4 linked regions of the Homo sapiens genome follow. The protein of the gene in region 4 interacts with the protein of the main gene of each other region in a pairwise test. Each region holds a gene or a part of one and is shown on either strand. Other genes may lie near its edges.

Evidence for each region.
Region 1: the proteins of TTC23L (region 4) and DPF2 interact in binary tests that used the Homo sapiens proteins (3 or more experiments, as listed by UniProt).
Region 2: the proteins of TTC23L (region 4) and EGLN3 interact in binary tests that used the Homo sapiens proteins (3 or more experiments, as listed by UniProt).
Region 3: the proteins of TTC23L (region 4) and DNAAF11 interact in binary tests that used the Homo sapiens proteins (3 or more experiments, as listed by UniProt).

Annotation. Positions count from the first base shown.
Region 1 is NC_000011.10:65,350,821-65,354,766, forward strand, and holds the end of DPF2 (zinc finger protein ubi-d4), read left to right. Parts: intron 1-862; coding exon 863-939; 3' UTR 940-3,442; downstream 3,443-3,946. UniProt on the Homo sapiens protein: Plays an active role in transcriptional regulation by binding modified histones H3 and H4. Is a negative regulator of myeloid differentiation of hematopoietic progenitor cells. Might also have a role in the development and maturation of lymphoid cells.
Region 2 is NC_000014.9:33,941,059-33,948,093, reverse strand, and holds part of EGLN3 (prolyl hydroxylase EGLN3), read left to right. Parts: intron 1-7,035. UniProt on the Homo sapiens protein: Prolyl hydroxylase that mediates hydroxylation of proline residues in target proteins, such as PKM, TELO2, ATF4 and HIF1A. Target proteins are preferentially recognized via a LXXLAP motif.
Region 3 is NC_000008.11:132,630,524-132,637,558, reverse strand, and holds part of DNAAF11 (dynein axonemal assembly factor 11), read left to right. Parts: intron 1-4,595; coding exon 4,596-4,819; intron 4,820-7,035. UniProt on the Homo sapiens protein: Involved in dynein arm assembly, is important for expression and transporting outer dynein arm (ODA) proteins from the cytoplasm to the cilia. Acts as a crucial component in the formation and motility of spermatozoal flagella.
Region 4 is NC_000005.10:34,834,622-34,842,188, forward strand, and holds the start of TTC23L (tetratricopeptide repeat protein 23-like), read left to right. Parts: upstream 1-4,542; 5' UTR 4,543-4,638; exon of another isoform or gene 4,639-4,742; intron 4,743-4,759; exon of another isoform or gene 4,760-5,013; coding exon of another isoform or gene 5,014-5,033; intron 5,034-6,043; coding exon of another isoform or gene 6,044-6,050; coding exon 6,051-6,118; intron 6,119-7,536; exon of another isoform or gene 7,537-7,567.

The sequences.
Region 1 (3,946 bases), on a different chromosome or scaffold from region 4:
ATAGAGAAATTAGCTGGGCGTGGTGCTGTGCGCTTGTAATCTCAGCTACTATAGAGGCTGAGGCAAGAGAATTGCTTGAATCTGGGAGGCAGAGGTTAGAGTAAGCTGAGATCACACTGCTGTACTCCAGCCTGAGCAACAGAGCGGAAACTCTTGTCTCAGAAAAAAAAAAAATAAAGGGAGTTAAAAAAAAAATGCATGAGACTGTATGTGGCTCACACACCCTAAAATATTTAACACTCTGGCTCTTTACAGAAAACTTTGCCAACCGTATTGACCTTTGGGTTAGAAAGGACTTACATTTTTGAGTCACCTGTTTCTGAAGAGCTGATAAAAGCCCTAGAATAATGTCCAAATGCGCATAGGTATAATTTTGCTTATCATTTCAAGGCATTAAGGACTAATTTTATTCAAAAAAAATTAGAAGAATTCAGCCATAGTCAATATTAATAAACAAGGAATGACCCAATTGTTTTTCATATAAGGGACAATTATTTTGTGTTTTTTAGTGAAACTACACAAGTCTTAAAACTGAGGTGCTTGACAAACTTCTGTCTTCCCAGGCCCTCTTCCTACTCCCAAAACTTCTGATTTAATAGGGCCAAGAGGGCCTGGGCATCAGTATTCTGAAGTCCTCTAGATGATTATTTCTTTCATCTCCATAGAGGATGATATTTCATAATATTTGAAGACTTAGAGGTTTATCCCAGCTCAGGAAACCATGGAACTTTCCTGCTGCAGAGCATCCCTCGTCCTACCTGTAGCTGATCCTGCTATAGAGATGGGGTATCAAGAGCAGAGGAATTGCAAGCAGGTGGGGATTGTGTGGGACCCATCCTGACCCCATTTTGCCTCTCTGCAGGAAGTTGGAGCTGCCACCTGTGTCTGGACCTGTTGAAAGAGAAAGCTTCCATCTACCAGAACCAGAACTCCTCTTGATGTGGCCACCCACCTGCTCCCCGACATATCTAAGGCTGTTTCTCTCCTCCACTTCATATTTCATACCCATCTTTCCCTTCTTCCTCCTCTCCTTCACAAATCCAGAGAACCTTGGGGTGGTTGTGCCAGCCTGCCTTTGGCAGCTGCAAGCTGAGGTGGCAGCTCTGACCACCTCTGGCCCCAGGCCCTCAGGGAGAAAGGAGCAACACACTGCCCCTAGGCGTGCGTGTGGCCCAGTTTCTCTCTGCTCTCCATTAAGTGCATTCACTCTGCTTGCCTTGGGCCCAGCCCCTGGTGATCACAGGGTTCAAACAGTGTCCTCCTAGAAAGAGTGGGAGAGCAGCTCACTTCTCTGTGTTCTGCCTCCCCTCTGGTCTCCAGAGTTTTCCTGTCCTCTAGAGGCAAGCCAGGCCAGGGAGCTGGGAGCGAGCAAGCTGAGGCCACGTCCACAAGGAGCTTTTCATGCCCCTGTGCCGCATAGCCTCACCTCTTTCCTCCAGAGTGGCTCTCTGCGGCCCTGTGTTCCTGCTACAGAGTGTTCTTTTCTGGAGTCAGGATGTTCTCGGTCACCCTCCTGGTTCTGCCCTGTCCCATTCCACCCCACCCCAGGGGGAACAGTAGCTTCACCTTGTTATTCCCATTGCTCTCCTGGCTCACTCTTACGGTCGGTCTCCAGTGACTGAAGCATTCCCCACCCTTGGAATTTCTCATCTTCTGCCTCCCTTCCTACTCCTTTTGGTTTTGTGGGGAGAGGGGAAGGATCAGGGGGCCAGGCCAGCAGCTCGGGGGCCACAAGGAGATGGATAATGTGCCTGTTTTTTAACACAACAAAAAAGCCTACCTCCAAAATCCCCTTTTTGTTCTTCCTGGACCTGGGCATTCAGCCTCCTGCTCTTAACTGAATTGGGAGCCTCTGCCACCTGCCCCGTGTATCCTGGCTCTCAGCTCATGGGGAAGCCACATAGACATCCCTTTCTTCCCTTGCACGCTCGCTAGCAGCTGGTAAGGTCTTCACACCCTGATTCCTCAAGTTTTCTGCTTAGTGGCACTGACATTAAGTAGTGGGGGGACAGTCCATGCCAGGACACCCTGGAGTAGCCTTCCCCCTTGGCCGTGGGCAGGCCCTAACTCACTGTCGCTTTGGAGTTGAGGTGTCTTTTTTTTTTCTTTCTTTAGTTCCTGTATTCTAAACATTAGTAAAAATAAATGTTTTTACACAGAGCCCTCTGCTGGATGGTTTATCTCCTGCCTTTCTCCATTAAGAAGGCCATTTCATCCTAAGATTTCCATGATGGTGGTTTTTTTTTTTAATGTTTTGAAATACAGCTTTTTTCCCCCCAAATTAAAATTTTTTTGTGGAACCCCAATATGTAAAGCGAATATAAAATTGGTTATTTTGTTTTGTTACATAAATTCAAGTTTATAACAATTCTTTGTTATAAAGAACAATGAAGCTGTTTTGATCAATACAAAATTTGGGTTAAAATCAACTTTAACATCTATTTTTATGTTTCAGTTGATTTGGAGAATTCTCCTAGTCTTGGATACATAGATGGAAGTGATGACAGGTTTATAACAGTTGACCTTGCAATCTCAGACATTTAAAACAGGACCAGAAGTTTATATAAATATAATTAATAAGCAAACTAATGACATCACCATGGGACACACACAAAAGTTCTTGCAGGAGCAGGGTCTGTGTGGCTTCAGTTGCCTGCAGCGCTCCCAGGCCAGAGCAAGTGCTCTAGGATCTGAACTGCCCGCAGTGCAGCCCTGCAGCCTTTCCCAGGGCACGTTGATGTGCACACAGTTTCCCTGAAGGCAAAGTGAACATGTGGAGAGCTTACGTGGCAGCGCGTATGTCTTCAGTGTGTGTTTTAGAAGTCCAACTGTTGTTTTTATGTTTTTAAAGGAAAGATTTGAATCAAGCAGTTATGGGCCCCCTGAAGTATCCTTTTTTCTAGAACATTCTGAAAGTCATCCTTGCCTATGGGAAGCCTAGGCCGGCCTGCACTGTTATGTTCAATAAATAAGCAGGGTGCTCTGGGCTGGGGATTGTGTGAGGAGCAGAGCGCAGCCCGTCCTCATGCTTTTCCACTGAAGTAGGCCAGGCAGAGAGGGAGTACAGCAATGGATGCGCTTTGGCAGCTGAGTAGTCCGAGAGCCAGAAAAGAAATGTGGAAAATAAGAACGCTGTAGCAGGCCTAGGTGAGGAAATTTAGGAAGGGTTTGCGGGAGGTAGGATTTGAGATGGGTCTTGGAGAGTTGGACAGTGTCAGCCGGTAGGACGGGGGTGCGGACGGAAGCCTGTGAGGAAGGCAGAGGATGCGGAGCTGTGAGCGGAGGGAGCAGCGAGGCTGGAGAGCAGCTGGGCTGCGGGTCAAGACGTCTGCGTTTAATTCGGGACTGAAGGTTAGCAGGGAAGGGAACGATGCCAGATCTTGAGTTTAAGAACTTGAATCTTGTAAAGTACCAAATCTAATAAAATACTCGTCCTAAATCATTACTGGCCCAAGCATGCAGTGTTTCCGTGGCCGACAGACTCGAGCCAGCGCTGTCCATGGTAACCAGCTTTTGTGTGGCTTAAAGCTTGCATCCATTTTCTCCTTTCATCGTTTTCCCAAAACAATTCCGTGAGGGCTGTTAGCCCTGCTTGGTAGACGAAGAAGCCGATGCGGTCTAGGGTCACGGCCAGGGAGGCTTTGGGACGCCAAGTCAGCTCGGCGGTCACCACACCACCTACAGGGCTCGTCGGGCCCTCGGGGTCGGCGGCTGCTGGAGGCGCCCAGGGGAGTCCTGCTGGTTCCTGGCTCCGCCTCCCGCCCCTCCGCGCTAGAAGCCCCGCCCCCAGAGGGGCTCGACGAACCGCCACTTCCGCAACGTCCAATGAAACTTAGCCGGGGGAGGGACGGGGCGCCACTGAGGACCAATCTGCTTGGGCCGGGGCGGGGCTGCGGCGGGTGGGTGCAGAGGGGCCGCACCGCGGACTTCGCAGCCGGGAGAGAGC
Region 2 (7,035 bases), on a different chromosome or scaffold from region 4:
TCCTTCACCCGTGTTTTCAAGAAAAACTAAAGTTTTAAATTTATTTATTATTATTATTTTTTTGAGATGGAGTCTTGCTCTGTCGCCAGGCTGTAGCGGCTCACTGCAATCTCTGCCTCCTGGGTTCAAGTGATTCTCCTGCCTCAGCCTGCTGCATAGCTGGGACCACAGGCACGCCACCCTGCCCAGCTAATTTTTGTATTTTTAGTAGAGACGGGGTTTCACCATGTTGGCCGGGCTGGTCTCGATCTCTTGACCTCATGATCCACCCGCCTCGGCCTCCCAAAGTTCTGGGATTACAGGCTTGAGCCACTGTGCCCGGCCCTTAAATTTATTTTTAAGTTTTAATTAAGGAAATTTTCAAACATACATAAACATAAGAGGCTAATATAATGAGCTCCCATCACCCAATTTCAACAATTGCCAATATGTACATTTGTTTTAGACCAATTTTTTTTAGCTACTTTAAATTTCTTGAGGTTATGCTTATTCATGCACTTACCCAAATTTCATTTCTTTTTTTGTTCTTTGCTAGACTTGGAAAGATCATTGAATAATATTGCCCTTTATCTCAATGAAACAATAGCAAAGATATTGGGAGTAAAACAGAAAGATACACTGGACCTAAAATTGAAATTGTGGAAGAATATAGAAAGAAATATTAGATGGTTCTGCTTCCTGCCAAGAAAGTTGTTAATGGTCAGAATTTGTCTACCTCATCTTTGCTGGAGAAAAATCCAAGGGTGTTGAAGACCCCTTGGGAAGTGGTTCCTGTAATGTACAGCTGTATGGCCCCCCCTAACTTCAAGCATGATCATTGCTTTCAGGCTAGCAAAGGATTTATCCGCTCGCTACTCCCTTTTGGAGATTTTAGACCATATCCAAGATAAATATTGGTCATAATTTGCTCCTTTTTCTTTGGCTGCCTAGATCTTGAAAATGGCTGTTTTCCAGAGAATGTATAATTTTTAGAACCAAAAGTCCCTCTGCTTCAAACAGCTCACTGTAGACTCACTAGTTAGTGACTCTAATAAGAAGAACTACCTTTTATTGAGCAGTTTGTATTGTCTGGCACTGTGCTATGCACTTTACAAATACTATCTTGCTTAATCTTCAGAAACACAGTCTTAAACATATTGAGTGATTAAATACTGTGCCCAAAGTTTCAAAGTCAGTGGTAAGAAACAGTTTAAATGGGGGCTGGGAGCTCAGGCTCAGTGTTAACTAACTTCGTGGCTTTAGGCAAGTTGCTTGGTTTACACCAGGTGCAAAATGAAAGGAAATAATGCCGTAAAGCTGTTGGAGGAAGAAGCATTAAATAAGATGATGTTTATGAAATGTTTAGCAGAATTCCGAGCCTTCATCAGTGTTTTAAGTCTCCAGAGGGGAAATTTGGGATCCTAACCTAGATTTGTGTAACTCCAGAGACTGTGTTATTTCCTTTTATTCTCTCCTACTTCCGACCTTTCATTTATTCAGCAAATGTTATGGAGTGTTCAGCCTGTGTGGGATGCTGTGCAGGGGTGGTGGTGCCATGATGAACGAATTTATACTTTCGTATACTTTGAATTGTAGGATGGTCTCATTCACACTTGACTAATTCTTAGGCTTAAGAAAACCCTCAAACATTGAAGTGGGTCAGTTGAGTACATTTGAAGAAAAAAATAGAGTACTGTGCTGATGTTTTCCTACTGTTTTATTTATTTATTTATTTATTGAGACAGAGTTTTGCTCCTGTTGCGCAGGTTGGAGTTCAATGGCGCAATCTTGGCCCACCACAACCTCCGCCTCCTGGGTTCAAGCGATTCTCCTGCCTCAGCCTCCTGAGTAGCTGGGATTACAGGCGTGCGCCACCATGCCCGGCTAATTTTGTATTTTTAGTAGAGACGGGGTTTCTCCTTGTTGGTCAGGCTGATCTCTAACTCCCGACCTCAGGTGATTCGCCTGCCTTGGTGCCTCCCAAAGTGCTGGGATTACAGGTGTGAGCCACCGCGCCCGGCTTCTACTGTTATTTTTAGGAAAACATTTATTGATAGGGTTTGTTCGTAGGATTCCTGACCAGACTAGCTCTGGAAGGTGGCATTGTGAGGACTGCATTGTGAACAGACCAATTGGTCCTCCCCTGGAAACAATAAGGAGGAATGATGAAACAGCAAAACATTTATGAATTAAAGAAGATGTGTTGCAAGGTGGTGTGTTTATTCCTTGCTGTTGAGCAATAACAGTTTTGGCCCACCCTTCTCATGTGAGGTCAGGAATATACATTATTTAATGGAGCTTATCATGGTTGCAAACTACTTTAAGGGAAAAATGAAGCAATGTACTATGAAGTGATCTCGCAGGATCCAAGTGCAAGAAATGCAGTCAGGGTTCTCAGAAGCTTAGAGGTATGAACTAGGAAGCAGAAAGTCCTTAACATCCAGGACAGCTGGTGTGTTCTTTTCTCAGGAGCCTCATGACCTCCATCTTTGCTTCCCTGCTTTTGCTCTTCATTTCTTATCCTCTTTTCAATCCAGCTTTTGCTGCCTTCCCATGCACATGGCTCAAGATGGCTGCCCCACAATGGCCACCTCAGCCTTTAGTTGCAGATGAGCAGAGACTTCAGTAACATTCCTGGATCCCTGTTTTCATCGCCTGGGAGAAAGTCTGATTGTCTCACCTTGGCTCAAGGGATCTATCAGCCGTAGTCTGGCACAGTGGGAGGCATGTGGAAACCATGCATCACAAATATGGTTGCCAGGGCCCATGAGAGTTATAGCTCTTAGAGCACAGAGTTTGAGAGCTGGATACCATAAATGGTATCTCTGCAATTAGAATCTTAGAAATCTACCTGTGAATAAGGTATTTTGGGGAGGAGTGCTGCTGAGTTTGAAGCTCTGGAACACTGTGAATAAGGTATTTTGGGGAGAAGGAGTGCTGAGTTTGAAGCTCTGGATCATCTTTCTGTAAGGATGTAAGGGATTCCTATAAAAGCTTTTGTATTAAAAATAACTTAGCTCCTGTAGGAAGGAAATTACTCCACAGTAATAATTTACAGAATACAGTCCCAGTGACAGTGAAACAAGTCTCTCCAATGGGCAAGTTTTCATGGGGTTTTTTGTCTATTTTGTGAATGACATTTGGAAACAAAAAAGGCAGGAGGGTGTGTGTGTTTAATTTGTAATTTCTTTTGCTCAATTTTGGGCCACTGGCCACTTCACTATAACCTTATCTGCTTCAGAGAAGTGGATAATAAAGGGATATCGATTTAATTCATTCACAGATCACTCAGTGCTGCACACTGTGGGAGACCTGTCCGTGGATGGGGAAGGGAAGTGCCCAGTGATTACAAAACCACCTGAAGAACTAAGCTGAGAGTTGAGTGTAGTGTGCAGTGGTTGTCACCAATTCTTTCTCTTTTTCTGGTTAAAAAGTGCACGTTTACGCTCATTAGTCATTGTTTCTCTTTGGGTTTTCTCCAATTTCTCTGTTAATTTAAAATGAAGCAACCAGAACAAGTGATCAAAACTATACAGGATGTTAATAATATGGGTTTTTAGGGCTAGAGAGATATTAGAAGTCACATCTATCCAATGTCTCAGTCATTCAGCAGTTGTTTTCATATTTGGAGAGATGATATCTTGAGCAGATCCTTGGGAAGGGATGGATAAAAGGTACTTTAATAGAGAAAGGGTGGCTGGGTGCAGTGGCTCACACCTGTAATCCCAGCACTTTGGGAGGCCGAGGCGGGCAGATCACAAGGTCAGGAGTTTGAGACCAGCCTGGCCAACATGGTGAAACCCCATCTCTACTAAAAATACAAAGTCTAGCCGGGCATGGTGGTTTGCGCCTGTAGTCCCAGGTACTCAGGAGGCTGAGGCAGGAGAATTGCTTGAACCTGGGAGGTGGAGGTTGCAGTGAGCCGAGATTGCACCATTGCACTCCAGCCTGGGCAACAGACCAAGACTCCATCTCAAGAAAAATAATAATAATAATTAAAAAGAAAATAGAGAAGGGGCTACGCTGGCTGGGTCAGACAGACTGGGACCAGGGTCAGTAGGTTAATTCAGTGGCATCACCATTTTATTTGGGAATTTTAAATATAATTCTGACTGAAAATTGATAAACACCCTTAAGTGGAGTTATGCAAGCCTGTCTCTGCATAAGGTTTTGGAGTATCATGAATGATTTCCCTTTCTAACCTTTCTGCTTCAGCTCAAGCAAAATTGGTAAAATTTTTCCTGATTCCTGAATCTCCTGGAAAAACTTGTAATTTCATAAGTAACAAACAGCCCTCCATTTTATGACCCTATCCCAAGAACACACCATGTATGAAAGATTTCTCTGAGGAAGCTTAAAGGTCAGGGTGGCGTTCTACCCAACCTCTAATGAGCAGAGTTTAAGCACTGCCAGCATCTTGTGTACTTCCGGATAAAGCTTGGAAGGCTGCTCACCTGTGGGCCATGTTTGGTTTGGCAAGGCCTCTGCTTTTGACCCAACTTTGCAGCCCTAGGTAAATTAAATTACATTTTGATCTGTGCCCACTGAAGACCAAGAAGTAGCTTGCAGGTTAACATTATGGAGAAGGTTATTAACTTTTTGTTAATTATTACGGCAACAGACTCCACAATTCCTTGGTAGCAGCACTTTGTAGTTGTTAAGTGATATTGCTCTAAGAAACGGGTGTCGCTTTTCTCTAGTGTTTGTCAAATGCACATGTTCTGACAGTAATGATAGTTCAGATCTATTTTGCTGGGCATCTGCCAGGGGTGCCCAGTGGGTAGCTGAATCCAGAGGCACTGGAATTGTAAATACAACAGACAAATCATTTGATGGTGCCAGACTAAGGAGTTCAGCTTTGGCAGATTGCCAGGAGCCGTTGATTGGGCTCAGATTCAGTGCTATGTGTCTGTTTGCCAAGCAAGATTAGTTGTCTTGGTTAATTATACATAGAATTTGTACCCCCTTTCTCTCGATTATTTCCATCTTAAACCGGTATGACATTTACTTTAATTTTGCATCTTGTTTTGATATTGATTTGTGGGTGAGTTTCTGTCCCTGTTTTTGGTGAGTCTGTAGTGACTACGTTTTCCTGCCCCGGTCCTAACACAATCCCAGCCTTACAGACCCTGGGTTTGCTGGTGTATAATGCAGGCTTTCACATCTTGTATTGGATTCATTTGGTACCTTGTTACTTAGTGTTCTCCGTGTTCAGTACAGTGTCAATACCTCCTTATTAAATCAAGCTAATTTTTGATTCTTTAGAAGGTACAATGATTCTCAAGTTCTGGAGTACATGTGCCTATCTTATATTAAACATTAGTTTTTCTTTACAAAATGAGGCCAAAATACTTATTGTTGCCATACAAAAATAATTCCAGAATACAAAGAATCAAATAATATGATAGTAACCTCAATTCTTTGTCAGTGGGAAGAAAACAAAATGAAAAACTCAATTCCAGGTGTCAATAACATCTATTTTTTATTCTAATGTGAGACCCTGAAGTTCCATCTTTTTGAAGTTGTCAGGATAATTTCATTTGAGCATTGCTTGGAAGCTGTAAGGATATACTGTTTGGGACCCTTTTATTTATTTTTATAGAGATGGGGTTCTGCCATGTTGCCCAGGCCTCCCAAAGTACTGAAACTACAGGTGTGAGCCACCAGGCCAGGCCAACAAAACCCCTTTTAAACACAAAATATTGAAGATTCAGGCAAGAACATGCAGTATTGCTAGAGAAGGGCCTATTGTGCTTTCTTTGTTTAGTTTTACTTTTTAGGTTCACTATAGAACCTCAAGTTGTCTTTTTTTTTTTTTTAACTAAACTTTCTTTCCTTTCTTAGTAGAAAAATCCTTGAGGGGCCCTTTCTTAGTAGAAAAATCCTTGAGGGGGGAAGTTTTTTAAAGTAACTTACTGTAACCATAAATCACTTGCCGTTGGTTCTTGTTCTTCCTGTAATCCATTTTATGTACTTTTGCTAGAGTGTAGTAGTCCCAATTCCAATTCTAATCATGTAGTCTCTGTGCTTAAAACAAAATAATCCAAAAATCCAACCATGCTCCTTCTTCATTATCTACTATACAACACTGTAAAGACTGTAAACTTAGCCAGCTTTGACAGCCCTCTACATCTGACCACATCTGACCTTTCTACACTTAATTTCCCACCACTGCCTTCCTTTCCTCCCAGTCCCTGAAATGCTAGAAACTAATTTGCCAGGCATAATGAGCTTCCCCATTGTCTTCCACTCATCAAAAATCCATCTCTACCGCCTTCTAGTGCCTGTTCCCTGAAGTCTTCCCTTCTGCTCCCCAGAACTCTGTCGTGGCTCAATCCAGGCTGCCCAGTACATGGATTTATTGGGCTGTTTATGCTGTCCACCGTGTGCTTAGAAATTCCTTGAATGCAGAGACTGTTAAGCTTTGTATATACTTTTAGTGCCTAGAACAGTCCCTTATACTTCATAGGTGCTTGTTGGCTTAATTTCATCTTCAAAAGGAACTTTGATTTTGATGGATATTTGAATGTTAAAAAAAAAGCTAGAATTTTTTTTGGGGGGGATAGAGGGGAATGACGGGGGAAGATGGGTGGCTGCAGCTTAGTCTCTAATTCGATGCCTAAGTATTTAAATATTTTATTAGAGTGACATGTTATGTGAGACCATCTCAATGGAGGACCTTAGCTTTGTAAGTTTTTTTTTTTTCTCAGTTTCGAAATCCTAGGTTTCACCCTAGAAATACCCGAGTCACACCTGGATCCTGGCAGCTCATACCTACAGGTCTGGCTCAGAGACGCCAGGGCCACGAGGCTTAGGGCCCCAGGTTCTGGTCCTAGCTCAGCCCCTGGCAAGTTTCATGGTCCTCCATTTCCACTTCTTTATGGATGAGTTAGATACTTGTTTTCATTTTTGAACTTAAATTTGGTCAGCACCTACCACTTGACACTAGGATGGACACTTCAGATTTTATTTCATCTTCCTATGATCTTGGGCAAGTCAGTTCTCTGAGCCCACTTTCATCATCTATAACATAGGCACAATAATACTGTATGTCTA
Region 3 (7,035 bases), on a different chromosome or scaffold from region 4:
ATCTCGGCTCACTGCAAACTCTGCCTACCAGGTTCAAGTGATTGTCCTGCCTCAGCTTCCCAAGTAGCTGGGATTACAGGCATGTGCCACCATGTCTGCCTACTTTTGTATTTTTAGTAGAGATGTGGTTTCACCATGTTGGCCAGGCTGGTCTTGAACTCCTGACCTCAGGTGATCCACCTGCCTCGGCCTCCCAAAGTGCTGGGATTACAGGCATGAGCCACCGTGCCCGGCAGGTTCACAGTCTTTGGTGTGCATCAGAGCACGTGGAGGCCTTTTCAAAACACAGACTGCTGTGCTCCTCCCCCAGGGTTTCTGGGTCAGGTCTGACATGGGGCCTGAGATTTCACATTTCTAACAAAATCTGGTAATTCTGCTGCTGGTGCAGGAACCTCATTTGACAACCACTACTGCGTATGTTACTCTTATACCATATCCCCCCAATCGAGTAATTTTAGAACTGAGGAAAAAATATTATTTCTTGAGAAATCATACAACAGAGAATATTAAGATAGCAATGTTACGTTTCATGTAATTCTAAGAGTTCCCAGCCTGCATGTGGCTCCATGTTCCTGGAAAGAGAATGCATGGATACATCGCCTGTTCAATAGGCATTTTTTCAGTTCTCAAAGGACGTTTGTTTCTTAGACTTCTGTGTTCTCTGCAGTCAAGAGACTGCTGACTGCTGGATTAATGGAACACATTTCTTCTAATGTAAAATTTCTCAGATTAAGAGAATGAGTGATTCAAGTAATTGAATATAGAATAAATGATAAATTGTCTCATACATAACCTAAACTGATCATTATTATACAGTGATTTCCTAGAAAATGAACTGATGAGACCCAGACTATCATAGGACTAGATCTTGTAGTGTAATGCTGTGAGCCGTTCCCTTGGAAGGGCTAAGGGTCCAGGAGTCCTCATGGCCACCGCAGCTGAGCCTGTGTCAGTGCTGCAGCTGAGCCTGGTCAGGCTAGAGGTGTGAGAGCCATCATATGGCTGCTGCAGACAGGGTCAGAGGTTGTGCCAGGTACTTTGGGCACAGTGTTTTTGATCCTCCCAGACCCATTCAGGGAGACAATTAGGTACATTCAGAGATGAGGAAGTCAGGGCTCAGGGAATGAACACTGCTTGTTTAGGCTGACATATCTGGCAAGTGACACAGGTGGGATCTGAACCTATGTGAGTCGGACCTTGATGCCTCCACCATTCACACTATACCCACATTCACTGCTTCTCTCCGGGTTAAATTATAGGCTTTGGATCAAGTCTTTCCTTTCAGAAAGACTTCTCCAAATTAACTGCTTCAATAGAAAACAGCCCCTTTTTGAAAAATGGTATTCATATGTTTACTACTATGTAAAAATAGGTTGATATGCTTTAGAGTCTTAATTACCATTTCATTGAAAGCTTGTGAGCTGCTTAAAAGGAATTGTGTTAATAAATGTATTATTTTCCTAGGGCTGCTGTAACAAAGTACTGCAAACTAGATGGCTTAGACAACAGAAATGTATCATCTTGTAGTTCTGAAGGCCAGACGTTCAAGTTCAAGATGTTGACGGGACTGGTTCCTTCCAGGGGCTGCGAGGGAGAATCTGCTTCATGCCCTCCCTCCTAGCTTCTGCTGATTTGCTGGCCAATCTTTGGCATTCTTGAGCTTGTAGACACATTACCCTGAGGGTCTCTGCCTTCCTCTTCACAAGACTCTTTATAAAGACACCAGTCATATTGGCTTGGGGCCCACCTGCTCCAGGATAATTTAGTCTCAGTGAATTATATCCATAGTGACCCTGTTTCCAGAAAGTCCCTGATTTGAGCTACTGGGGGTTAGGACTTCAACATCTTTTTTTGTCAGGGGACATCTATAATAACCCTATTTCCCAAAAGTCCATGATTTGAGCTACTGGGGATTAGGACTTCAACATCTTTTTTTGTCAATTCAACCCAAAACAACAGAGTAGTTATTTTAGATAGTCACATAGAAGAGGTGTGAGGAGAGTCAGCCCTTTTCAAGGTTTTTCTTCCCAGTGTCTGAGCCACTCCAGAAGTAGGTGGGCCCTGCAGTATAGTGGGAAACAGATTTGTTAGCAGACAAACCAAGGTCTGACCCCTGCTTCCACTGCCTGTGAATTGTGTGCCTCATTTTACTCATGTATAGTAGGATCATAATTCCTACTTCAAGGGAGTTCTGTGAGGCCTTCAGTACATCTTAGTGTCCCTCTCTCTGCTTCAGCACTTGCACAGTTATTATCAATAAGTGTGGACACTCCACCTTTGTGCTGCAGGAATCCTGGGTGAAGAAAGATCAAGAAACGCTCAGCTTAAAACTGGATCTCTGATTCTTAGGCCTTCTAAACTCAGACATGATTTTGGATTGAAGGAAATGTGGGCCAATTTCAAAGACTAACAGAAATCACTAAAAAAGTGAGGTTCCTAGAATAGGTGCTGGGGTACAGTCCCAAATTTGTCATCAGTTATTAATATGAGGTCTTTTGCCTCCTGTCAGTAAAGTGACAGAGGGTTCAGTTGTCATAGCCTTTTAGGAATGTAGTTCTAATTAAATCAAAATAGACTTACATCATTTATAAGACAGAAATCAATCAATCAATCAATCAATTAATGTACTTCAATTACAAGGAAGAAAAGATCACCTTGCTCCCCAGGGTTCTGTTGGGAAGAAATCCTAGTTGAAAGAAATTATCTAGAGTTTTCTAGCTTGTTATAATATACAGTTATATATAATGTATTTATGTTAATATATATTTATATATAAATTATACTATATAAATTAATATAACAAAGTGCCACAAACTGGATGACTTAACAGAAATTTATGAAAGTGCTTTATTTATATAGTATTAGTTATATATAAATATATTTACTTTTATGTTGATTCATATATTTATATCAGTGTATTTACTTATATATACTTACAAAATAAGTAAATTTCATTTATCCAAAAATTTCCAAATTGATTTGATCCCAATCCTGTATTAAATTAGATCAAATTAAGTATGTGGACCACAATTACTTAATGCCTTAAATAATAGGTTTTATTGCATTGAATTTATCATTATGGTCTCATAAGTAATGGTATGAAGATACCTTTATTGAAGGATACTACAAGAAACAGCCTTATGAAACCTGTGACTGTATGGCCATATTTCTACAGAAACAATGCTTGACATCTCTCAATATCTCCATTATGAAACTCTGTGCTAGAAATGTGTTTTAGAGCTGCATGTTAGAGGAAAGCTACAAACTTTATTTTTTCCTTAAAGACCATGAAAATTGTGTAACTAGTTATGTTTTTCTATTTCGCTTTGGCTGCCAAGAAGCTCAGAACCAAATCTGCAGCCCATCTATAGCAACCATATGAGTCCTTATGACCAGAGCATATGTGGCATTATCTTTTTTCCAAATCTCTACATAATTTTGACTTATAATTCAGCTGATTCTAATAATTTTTTAATTTATATTTGACTAAATCTTTGTGTGTATTTTTTTTTCCTTTTTTATGTTTCTTATTGCTGCTGTAACAAATTGAGACAAACTTAGTGACTTAAAACAATGCAAATGTATCACCTTATGATTCTGGAGATCAAAAGCCTGAAATGGTTTCACTGGGCTAAAATGAAGGTGTTGGCAGGGTTATTCTTTCTTCAGGCTCTAGGAGAGAATCCCTTACTTTGCCCCTTTCAGCTTCTAGAGGATACCTGCATTTTTAGGCTCATGGCCTCTTCCTCCATCTCCAAAGACATCAGTGTGCCAACTTTACCTCTCTCCCTAACTCTGACACTCATGTCTTTCTCTTTTACTTATAAGGACCTCTGTGGTCCTTATAAGAATCATCCTGATCATTCAAGATCCTTAACCTAATCACACCTGTAAAGCCCCTTTTGCCATGTAAGGTAACATTCATGGAGATTAGAACATGGACATTCTTGGGGAACCATTATCTTCCAACCACCCCTTCCTAAATACCTCACCTCATTTTGCAGAATAAGGCAGGGTAGATAAATAGGTATCTTTAAACTGTTAGCTTTAACATTTTAGAACTTTAGTTGATGCTTTTATTTTAATATTTTACTTTGGAAAATCATAATTGAAGTATCAGATGTAAACAATGCTGTAACAATAGCCTATCTGTTTGTCTTGTTGTTAAGGGTGAAACATGGGCTCATTTGTATTAGAGCCCAATCATGTGTAATATTCAAGGCCTTTTTTTTCTGTAGAGAGCTTTTGGGAAGTGCCATTGTTGTACTTTGAAGCTATGATTTGACTTAAGCATTGACATTTTTGACATAGTGAGCAATTATAAAATTAATAGAAAATATTTTGAGAGCTTGTATTAATTATCAGTTTTAACAGACCTAATTATTATTATTACTAGTAAAGGTATTTTTTAAACTGTGTAAATTATATGAAATATACATTAATTTAGAACAATGTTCTGATATTTCCCATTAATTATATTGTTTTAATTCTCTATCACTATCGGGTATATTATTATTTCTAATCAAAATCAACCTGGGGCTGATTCACACTGCTACTTTTGAACAATTGTACTATATTTATTGTTTTTCTTTAAGTGGTTGGATGGTAAAGAAATAGAGCCTTCAGAAAGGATTAAGGCATTGCAGGACTATTCAGTAATTGAACCACAAATCAGAGAGCAGGAAAAAGATCACTGTCTTAAACGAGCCAAACTCAAGGAAGAGGCTCAGAGGAAACACCAAGAAGAGGATAAAAATGAAGACAAGAGAAGTAACGCAGGCTTTGATGGACGTTGGTACACAGACATCAATGCTACTCTGTATGTAAATTATTAGTTTACTTTCTAGTTAACTTTTGTTAAAAGCAGCAAACTGTATTCTCTTTCCAAGTTGTTTGCAGTACACTTATATTCCAGATTAATTTGAAGAATGAAATATGATGTGAATTTTGGATGGAAGAATATGAGCATCCCATTGCTTGTGACAATTCTGTAAGGCTTTCTTTCCTTGGGGGAAAAATTCCTTTTTAAACTAGCAACTTTAATTTGCATCTAAAATTATTCTCAGAGAAATCCGTAAAATGTGTACAGAAAAGATGAATTAACAGGTGTACTTTGATTTACGAACTAGGAATATTTTAGAAAAGTTAAATACAAATCACATTATAATTTGAATAATTCTAATTGCATCATAAAACATTCTATTTTCTGAATTGGAATAGATTTCAGAAAAATACTGAATACATTTTTAATGTGATTAATAACTCTCTAATTGGTTTTTTAAAAATTAAATTTTTCATGTTTGTTTATTTTAAGTGAATTGCAACTATAGTCAGTTGATTTGATTCCATACAGTGAAAGTATTAAGTATTTAGATAACAGAATCCCTTAAAATTGAGAAAATAATAATTATAAAATATTGCAGACATACATAAATGTTTGAAAATAGTTATATAGGCAGCTTGTAGTTCTACCACCTAGATTTAATAAATGACAATAGTTTGTATGTTTGCTTTGGATCTTTTTTTTTTTTACTTTTTTTTAAATTATACTTTAAGTTTTAGAGTACATGTGCACAACGTGCAGGTTTGTTACATATGTATACATGTGCCATGTTGGTGTGCTGCACCCATTAATTCTTCATTTAACATTAGGTATATCTCCTAATGCTATCCCTCCCCACTCCCCCAACCCCACAACAGGCCCCGGTGTGTGATGTTCCCCTTCCTGTGTCCATGTGTTCTCATTGTTCAATTCCCACCTATGAGTGAGAACATGCGGTGTTTGGTTTTTTGTCCTTGCAATAGTTTGCTGAGAATGATGGATCTTTTTTTAAATAAGAAATAAAATATCATTAAGAGAGCAGACACTCCTTAAAGACTTCCCCTTCATCCCATGCCTCTCTTCATCCCAGTGGCGTCTGCTATCCTGAAGCTGGTGCGTGTTTGATATATGTTGATCCCATCCATATTTTTAATACCCTTATTTCACAAGTATGCCTCCTTAAACAATAGTAGTTTGAGTATGTGTGTTTAGCATGAATGATACCTTTCTATAGCTTTGCTTTTCATGCAACATTATGTTTTTGAGATTTACGCACATGAAGACATGCAAAACTAATTCATTGTAAGTATAGAATAATATCCTGTTGGATGAATAAATTACAATTTATCCCAGAGGTAATATTCAAAGTAGTTAATGACCAGTGTTTCATTTGCCCTGACCCATCAGAATGTGCAGCGGCTCTAACAACACATGTGGTCTTCCTAGTGGTGCCAGCTGGTCAGCCTGGACACAGCCATCCCTCTTTGGATGGCCATGCACGTTGTTTTCCCTATTCCCATTTCCTATTCTCACAGGAATAGAATCTCCTGAAAGTAGCATCATGGTCTCTCTTTGCCAGGGCTGTATCTCTGGTGCCTGGCACAACAGAAGATGCCCAATAAATATTTATTGAATCCATGTTGAACATTTGTTGAGATATTCAAGCAATGTTGCCCTTGTCTCCTTGTTCAGGTATGAAAGTTTCTCCAGGGTATTTAGCAATGGCATTGCTACAATTATGACATCTTTTCAACTTTTTACATATTGCCAAATTGTTTTCTAGAGTAGTTGTGATAATTTATACTCATATATCAACAATATACAAGAGTTTTCAGTCTTTGCCAATACTGGATAATATGATATTTAAAAATATTGGCCAATCAAGTGTGTTGTGTAGTATATAGTATCCTCTATTTTTAAAAAAATTAATTTGCATTTCTGTAGTTACTAGTGAATTTGAATATTTTAAATATCTTTTATATGTTTATTGGTTATTCAGGTATCCTCTATTCAAGTCCCCTACTTATTTTAAATAAGTAGTTAAGTTTTTTTCTTATTGAGAGTTCTTTTAGATTCTGGATACAAATAAAAAAATACATTCTTTGGTGGTTATGTGCTTTACAAGTGTCTTCTACCAGTCTGTGACTTGTCTTTAATTATAAGTGCTTATGTTTTATGAAGTTTAAAAATATTAATGTAGTTAAACTTATTTG
Region 4 (7,567 bases):
GGACTTATAGTTCCACGTGGCTAGTGAGGCCTCTCAGTCATGGTAGAAGGCAAGGAGGAGCAAGTCACGTCTTAAATGGATGGCAGCAGGCAAAGAGAGAGCTTGTGCAGGGAAACTCCCGTTTTTAAAACCATCAGATCTTGTAAGACTTATCCACTATCACAAGAACAGCATAGGAAAGACCCACCCTCATGATTCAATTATCTCCCACCACGTTCCCCCCACAACATGTGGGAATTCAAGATGAGATTTGGGTGGGGACACAGCCAAACCATATCAGTAAGGGATGGAAAGAAGCAGGACACAGTCAAATGATGCAAGCTGCTAACAGCCAGGAGAAGAGGGCTCCTTATGTGTCACCTCCATATGTTTTTAAAACCATGCATTTAAGTTACACACTCTAGTAGGCAGAATAAGTCCTCCCAAAGACATCCATGTCCTAATCCTCAGAACCTGTGAATATGTTAGCTGTGAATCTAACCTGTGAATAAGTTACATGACAAGGAGGAATTAAGGTTGCTGATAGAATTAAGCCTGCTAATCTGCTGACCTTTAAATAAGATTATCCAGGTGGGCCCAGTATAACAAGAGGGGTCTTTTAAAAATGGAAAGAAGGGTCAGAGATTTGAAGATGCTGCATTGCTGCTGGCTTTGAAGATGAAGAGAACAAATCAAGGAATGCAGCCAGGCTCTAGAGGCTGGAAAAGGTAAGAAAAAATTTTCTCCTTGAGCTCCCAGAAGGAGCCACCCTTGCAGACAGCTTGTCTTTAGCCCAGTGACACCCATTTCAGACTTTCAACCTCCAGAATTATACAATAATAAAGTTGTGGTTTGTTAAGCCACTGAGTTTGTGGTGACATTACAGCAACAATAGGAAACTGATACACACAGGGAGAATCTCTACTAATGGAGTTCCTAAAGGTCATTTGTAGTTTATGTGTTTTTTTTGTTTTGTTTTTCTTTTTTAACACTGATATATCCCAGGCACTGTGCTGAATGCTAAAGGCTCAATGATAACAACTCCTGCTCACGAGGAGCTCATAGCTGGCCAATCAGGGCCTGCTACCTAGCAGGTATTCTGTATTCACTGAGTGGGTAGATGAATATTTAGACGGATGAATTGCCTATAAGGCCCTCCATGACCTGATGCCCCACCACTTTACTGACACAGTCTTTTGTCTCTTTCCTCCTCATTCTTACTACCCTTGGCTGTTCTTTGACCCCATTAAACTTGTTCCTGCCTCAGGGCTTTTGCACTTGCTGTTAACATCTTAGAATGTTCTTCTCCTAAATATTTGCACAATTTGTTGCACGATTTGAGGTATCTTCTCAATGTCATCTTGTCAGAGAGGCCCTGTTTAACTACACTATGTAAGATGGCACACCCCTCCCGCCATGGCCACATCACCTTCTAAATCCCTTACCTGGTTTTATTTTTCTCCATAACTGTTTATCATGTTTTCTTTTTCTTTTTTCTTTTTTTTTTTTTTTAAGATGGATTCTTGCTCTTGTCACCCAGGCTGGAGTGCAATGGAACAATCTCGGCTCACTGCAACCTCTGCCTCCCACGTTCAAGCAATTCTCCTGCCTCAGCCTCCCAAGTAGCTGAGATTACAGGCACCCGCCACCACACCCAGCTAATTTTTTACTTTTAGTAGAGATGGGGTTTTGCCATGTTGGCCAGGCTGGTCTCGAAATCCTGATCTGGTGATCCACCCGCCTTGGCCTCCCAAAGTGCTGGGATTACAGGCGTGAGCCACTGTGCCCAGCCCACTTTTTCTTAAGGTGACTCTTCTGGCTAAGGGAGTCAGTGAGTCCTGAAATCCAGCCCACTCTCTGTTCCCAAAGCTGTACTCCTTAGCAGGGGTCTGAGTCTGGCTGGAGGAAAAGGCTTTTTCCAAATTCATACACTGTCACTGCATACTCCCTAAGCCTTCTGCCTTTTTGTAACTTGCAGAGACACCATACTGTTTACTAGCAGCTCTGTTTTTCTTCATCTAGTAGAATATAAATTCCTGGAAAGCAAAATCATTATCTTATTTGTTCACTTTTGCTTTCCTACTGCTTAGAACATTATCTGGCACATAGTAGGTATTCCACAAATATTTTTGTCTGGGTGGATGGATAGATGTATGGAGATTGGAGAAACTTGCAAATAAACAGAAGTGCCAGTACAATGTGAGAGTCATGATGAGATTGTGGACAGGGTACTGCGAGGGCTCAGAAGCAAGGCATCTAACCCTCTCTTGAGAGGCCATAAAAATGTGTTCCAAGCGAAAGTTTATTTGGATTTCCTTGCCTTAAATTTCACAGTTCCTGGGATAAGAATAGCTTGGAGATAATCACATTTGATTTGGGGTTGTTAGAGCCTAGAAAAACCCCCCATACTGCTTCCTCTATGCAATTTCTGCAATAGCAATGCTTGCCACCTCTACCTCCGGATCAGGGGAGGGAATGTGAATACACACGGTGGAAACGCACTATCCACTTAGATTAGTGGGATGCCATTCTAGAGTTAGTGAACAAACCTAAAAGTGTATATACTACAACTAAAGCTTACATTTGGGGGACAGGGTTAACATGACAAGGAAAGAAATACCAAAAAACTTCAAGAGTCCTCAAAGTTCTGGCTGGACGGTGGCTCACACCTGTAATCCCGGCACTTTGGGAGGCTGAGGCAGGCAGATCACCTGAGGTCAGGAGTTCGAGACTAGCCTGGCCAACACAGTGAAACCCTGTCTCTACTAAAAATACAAAAACTAGACAGACAGTAGTGGCACACATCTGTAATCCCAGCTACTCGGGAGGCTGAGGCAGCAGAATTGCTTGAACCCGGGAGGCGGAGGTTGCACTGAGCCAAGATCACACCACTGCACTCCAACCTGGGCCACAGAGTGAGACTCTGTCTCAAAAAAAGAAAAAAAATAGTCGCCAAAGTTATTTTATTTTGATTTATAATTTTTACAGATGCAGGCAACATGCTTCCGGTCAGAGCTAATGAAATGGAGGCCGAATTAGAGCGTTGGCTTTAGGAATGGGAATTCAGTGCCTGTTCTGGTTCTTCTCTCCACAATTATCAGCAAAAGCAAAGGTTTAGAAAAGAGACATTACCTTTAATATACTTAGAAACAATCTCACAGCCATTTCCTAGAATGAAAGAACATTAAAACCTTTCAATTTGATGACCAACTTAACAAGGGGTAAAAGAAATAAATGTTGGAGAACAGGAAACAGGTTCTTCCTTTTTACTCCCATACATGTTAAATACTGTTCATAGAGTCACAAAAATCGTTTACCCCTTACAGAAACCTGGAACCAGAAGGCGCTTCAGAAAGCAAGTGGTACAAAAACTTTCACCGTATAGGCAAGAAAATTGGGACCCACTGGCCGTGACTCGGCCCAGGCTACAGAGTCAAAACCAGAACCTTGACATTCTGAAATCAGGTTCATTGCTGTCATCATTGTTCCATGCTGAGAGTTTTCTTAGGAAAAAGAATAAAGTGGGGGAATCTTTCCAAAATTGTGACTATGGAGCTCGAAAGTACAGATTTAAATCTTGAGTTAACAGACCATACAGGTTTTACTTAAGAGATATTCAAGCAAACTCATTTAAATAACTCCTCCAACCTAACTCCAAAAAGGCTTTCTTGGCAGTCTTGGATCAATGGCAATTAAACTTCCAGCCTAGAGCTGGAAATAACAAACACCAAACGTAAACACCATCTTTCACATTCTCAATGTTCTCCTTGTCTCTCTACCTAGTCTGCTCTTTTCTGAAAACAACTGGGACACATTCACTCCAACTTGACTTGCCATAGGCCTAGTCTATGATAGGGTTCATAATAACATCCTTCAACATAGCGTTGCAAGAGCTGGCGCTGTTTCTTTGGGTATGGCCACAATTGCCTCTGCACCTTGTGTGTATTACACACACTGTATTCCATGCCAACGAAAGGGTAAGATATGGCTGCATTATTTAGGGCTAAGTGCTAAATAAATAATGAACAGCTAACCATTAGCAGATCTAGTAGTCGATTTCTTACCCTACTCTCTTCCTGCAATCAGCTTTCCTAACCATGCCTAGCTCCAATCTTACTGGGTAACACAGACGGTGCCAGCACAGTCAACAGCCATATCTAAGCCTTTCCTCTGGGGTCCATAAAAACAAAACTCCCGAGGAGCTGTGGGGGTGCACCGTGGCCAGGATCGTCGCCGAATACAGCCCGCACACGTCGCAGCTTTAAATAAGTAGGGCCGTGGGGCCCGGCGCTCCCTTCCATCCTTGGACGGAATGTATCTTCTCTTCCTACGCCTTCACCTCCGAGGGGTAAGGTCTCGTGAGATACAATATGCAGAGGCCAGTTTTGGGGCGAGCCGGAGGCCGGGCGCGTCTAACCTGCGGGGAAGGGAAAGCGGAGGGTAAGGCAAGGGCTGCTGTAGGCGCCAGACAACAGGGACTCTCCGAACCGGAAGTGCCCCGCGTCGCCATGGCTACAGGCGCTCCCAGCAGAACCCGTAGCGTTCCGTTCCCATGGCAACGGTATTGTCTCCTTGGCCGGACCTGGGCTGCGGAAGGTAACTGGGGACGTCGCAGGCTGTGCAGCTTTCGCGAGGCACCGCTTTGGCGCCCGGACCGAGGTGCGCCAGGGTCAGGAGGCCGACGCAGCGGGAGGAAGCCGCGCCGTCGGGCTCAGGGAGCTGGGAGGCTGGTTCCGGGGCGTGGTTTCTCCGCCTTGAGCCAGGTGCCCTTTGCGCACTCGCGCGTTCTCTTAGAGCCTCCGCGGCAGAGAGGCTCTCAGAGCTCGACCTGCGGCGTCAGGGCTTACAGACTTGCCGCAGAACCACAGCGGGAAAAGAGGAGCGATTCGTCCTTGAGGGGCTCAGGGCCGTGCGGAACGTCATAGGAACAGAGTCCGGGAGTTTGAGAGATCAGAACTCTTTGCTGTGGGCATAGTGTTTAAAGTGGAGGTTAAAAAGAGAAATTAGTGACTCTCCCTTTCTGATTTTCGGATAATGGATGCTCTGGAGCCTGGGTCAGAAAGCCACTCAGGGCTCGGTGGGAATTAGTGATTCTGGAGGGTGAAAGGAGAGGCGACTTGGTGGATGTTAACATTCAATAAGTAACTGCGTTCGATTTGGGTTTGATTTAAGCGACTGGCATAGCCTTCCTTGAGAGTTGAATTTCACAAATACTGTATTTAGAAATCACATTTTTCGTTTTGTGCTTCCGAGGTTTCTCCTATCATCTAACAGCAACAACTAAAACAGACACATGAATTTCATTTTATTGTTTTATTTTATTTTGAGACGGAGTCTCGCTCTGTCGCCCAGGCTGGAGTGCAGTGGCGCGATCTCCGCCTCCCGGGTTCAAGCGATTCTCCTGCCTCAGCCTCCCGAGTAGCTGGAACTACAGGCGTGCACCACCACAGCCGACTATATTTTGTATTTTTAGTAGAGACGGGGTTTCACCCTGTTGGCCAGGCTGGTCTCGAACTCCTGAACTCGGGTGATCCACCCGCCTCGGCTTCCCACAGTGCTGGGATTACAGGCGTGAGCCTCTGTACCCGCCTCGTGACCCCTGTACTAGAATCTGCTATTAATTAGTGAAATGACCCCGGGGGGGGGGGGGAAAGCAGAATTAACCAATACACTGGCTGTGCTTCGTTTACCACTGAGAGTTGGTTGCTTTGCTTAAATCCAACACGCCGTCAGACCTGCAAAAACAATATCTGAGTTAAGTAGGTGACCATAGTTTTGATGACCCAGGAACTGTAAATGTGCTTGCTTTGAGACATAAAGGCCAGGGATTTTGGAGAAGTAGGGTGGAGTTGAAATTAGGGGAAAGAAATTTAACTTAGACATTTAATTTGGCAAATGTCTGTTTTCCAGCGGTCTCCATATCTAAGTATGCGTAGTCTGTGGATTTAGGATGGGTTATATATTTGAGCAGTTTTAGTTTAATGTTAATAGCAAACCAGAGGGGGAAAATAGAACAGACACCCAGCCTTTTCTCTCAAAGCTGACCTTACCTGATTCTTGGTAGGAAGAAGATGCAAGCCAGCCCCATCCGTATCCCAACTGTTAGCAATGACATCGACTGGGATTTCTGCTTCCATATGTAAGTATCACAGCATTTTGACATCACAGGTACTTACTGGGCTGAAACACTGGGACCTCCTGCTTAAGGCAAACCTGGGTGAGGAGCTTTGCATGAGAAGCGTTCACGACCAGCCTGACCAACATGGTGAAACCCCGTCTCTACTAAAAATACAAAAATTAGCTGCGCGGTAGTGGCACGCGACTGTAATCCCAGCTACTCGGGAGGCTGAGGCAGGAGAATAGCTGAACCCGGAGGCAGAGGTTGTGGTGGGCTGAGATTCCATCACTGCACTCCAGTCTGGGCAATAGAGACCCTGTCTCAAAAAAAAATAAAATAAAATAAAAAAGAAGGTTGTGTTTCTGATGTGCTTTAATAATGATTCTGCTATAATATCTGTTTGTATTTACAACCTATGCATGATAGAAGATTGCTTTTTCCCGACTTAAGGAAATTTTAAAAGTTTTTAAAATAAAAATAGGTTAGTTATAACAAGATTGGCAAAATTGTAGAGAGTTAGCTATAACAAAGTTAATGAGAAAATTTTTATGAAATAGAGTAAATAAAACTTTCGTATCGTCTAATACTTATTGAGCACATACTATGTGCCAGGCTCTGTTCTAAGTACCTTAAACGTCTTAGCTGATTTAATCCCCCCAAGCCCTGTGAAGGAGTTACTGTTATTGGTACATTTTATAGATGAGTATGAATCAAAGAGATGTTAGGGAGTTTGCCCAAAGTTGCAAAGCTAGTAAATGGTATTTAAACTGGGCATTCTGACTCTAGAATCCATTCTTGTTTTGTTTTGTTTCGTTTTTAGAGACAGCCTTGCTCTGTCACCCAGGCTGGAGTGCAGTGGTGCAATCACGGCTCACTGCAGCCTTGGCCTCTTAGGCTCAAGAGATCCTCCCACCTCAGCCTCCTGAGTAGCTGGGACTACAGGCACACACCACCATACCTGCCTAATTTTTACATTTTTGTAGAGATGCGTTCTCATTATGTTACCTAGGCTGGTCTGGAACTCCTGGGCTCAAGTGATCCTCCTGCCTCAGCCTCTCAAAGTGCTGGGATTACAGGCATGAGCCACTGTGCCCAGGTAGAGTCCATTCTTTAACCATTCTCTATAGCAGGGTTTCTCGGTCTCTGCACTGTTGACATTGGGGTTGGATAACTGTTTGTTGTGGAGGGCTGTCCTATATGTTGTAGGATTTTTAGCAGCATCCCTGGCCACCATCCACTAGATGCCAGTAGCACTAGCTCCAGTTGTGACAAGCAAAAATGTCTCTAGATGCTGCCAGATTTCCCCTCGGGGCAAAGTCATCCTTAGTTGGGAACCATTGCTCTATACCAGTGTCATCAAATAGAAATATAATGCAAACCACATATGTAATTTAAAATTTTCTGCTACCCATATTAAAAGGTGAAATGAAACACATGAATTTAATTTCAATACTATATTTTATTTCAATA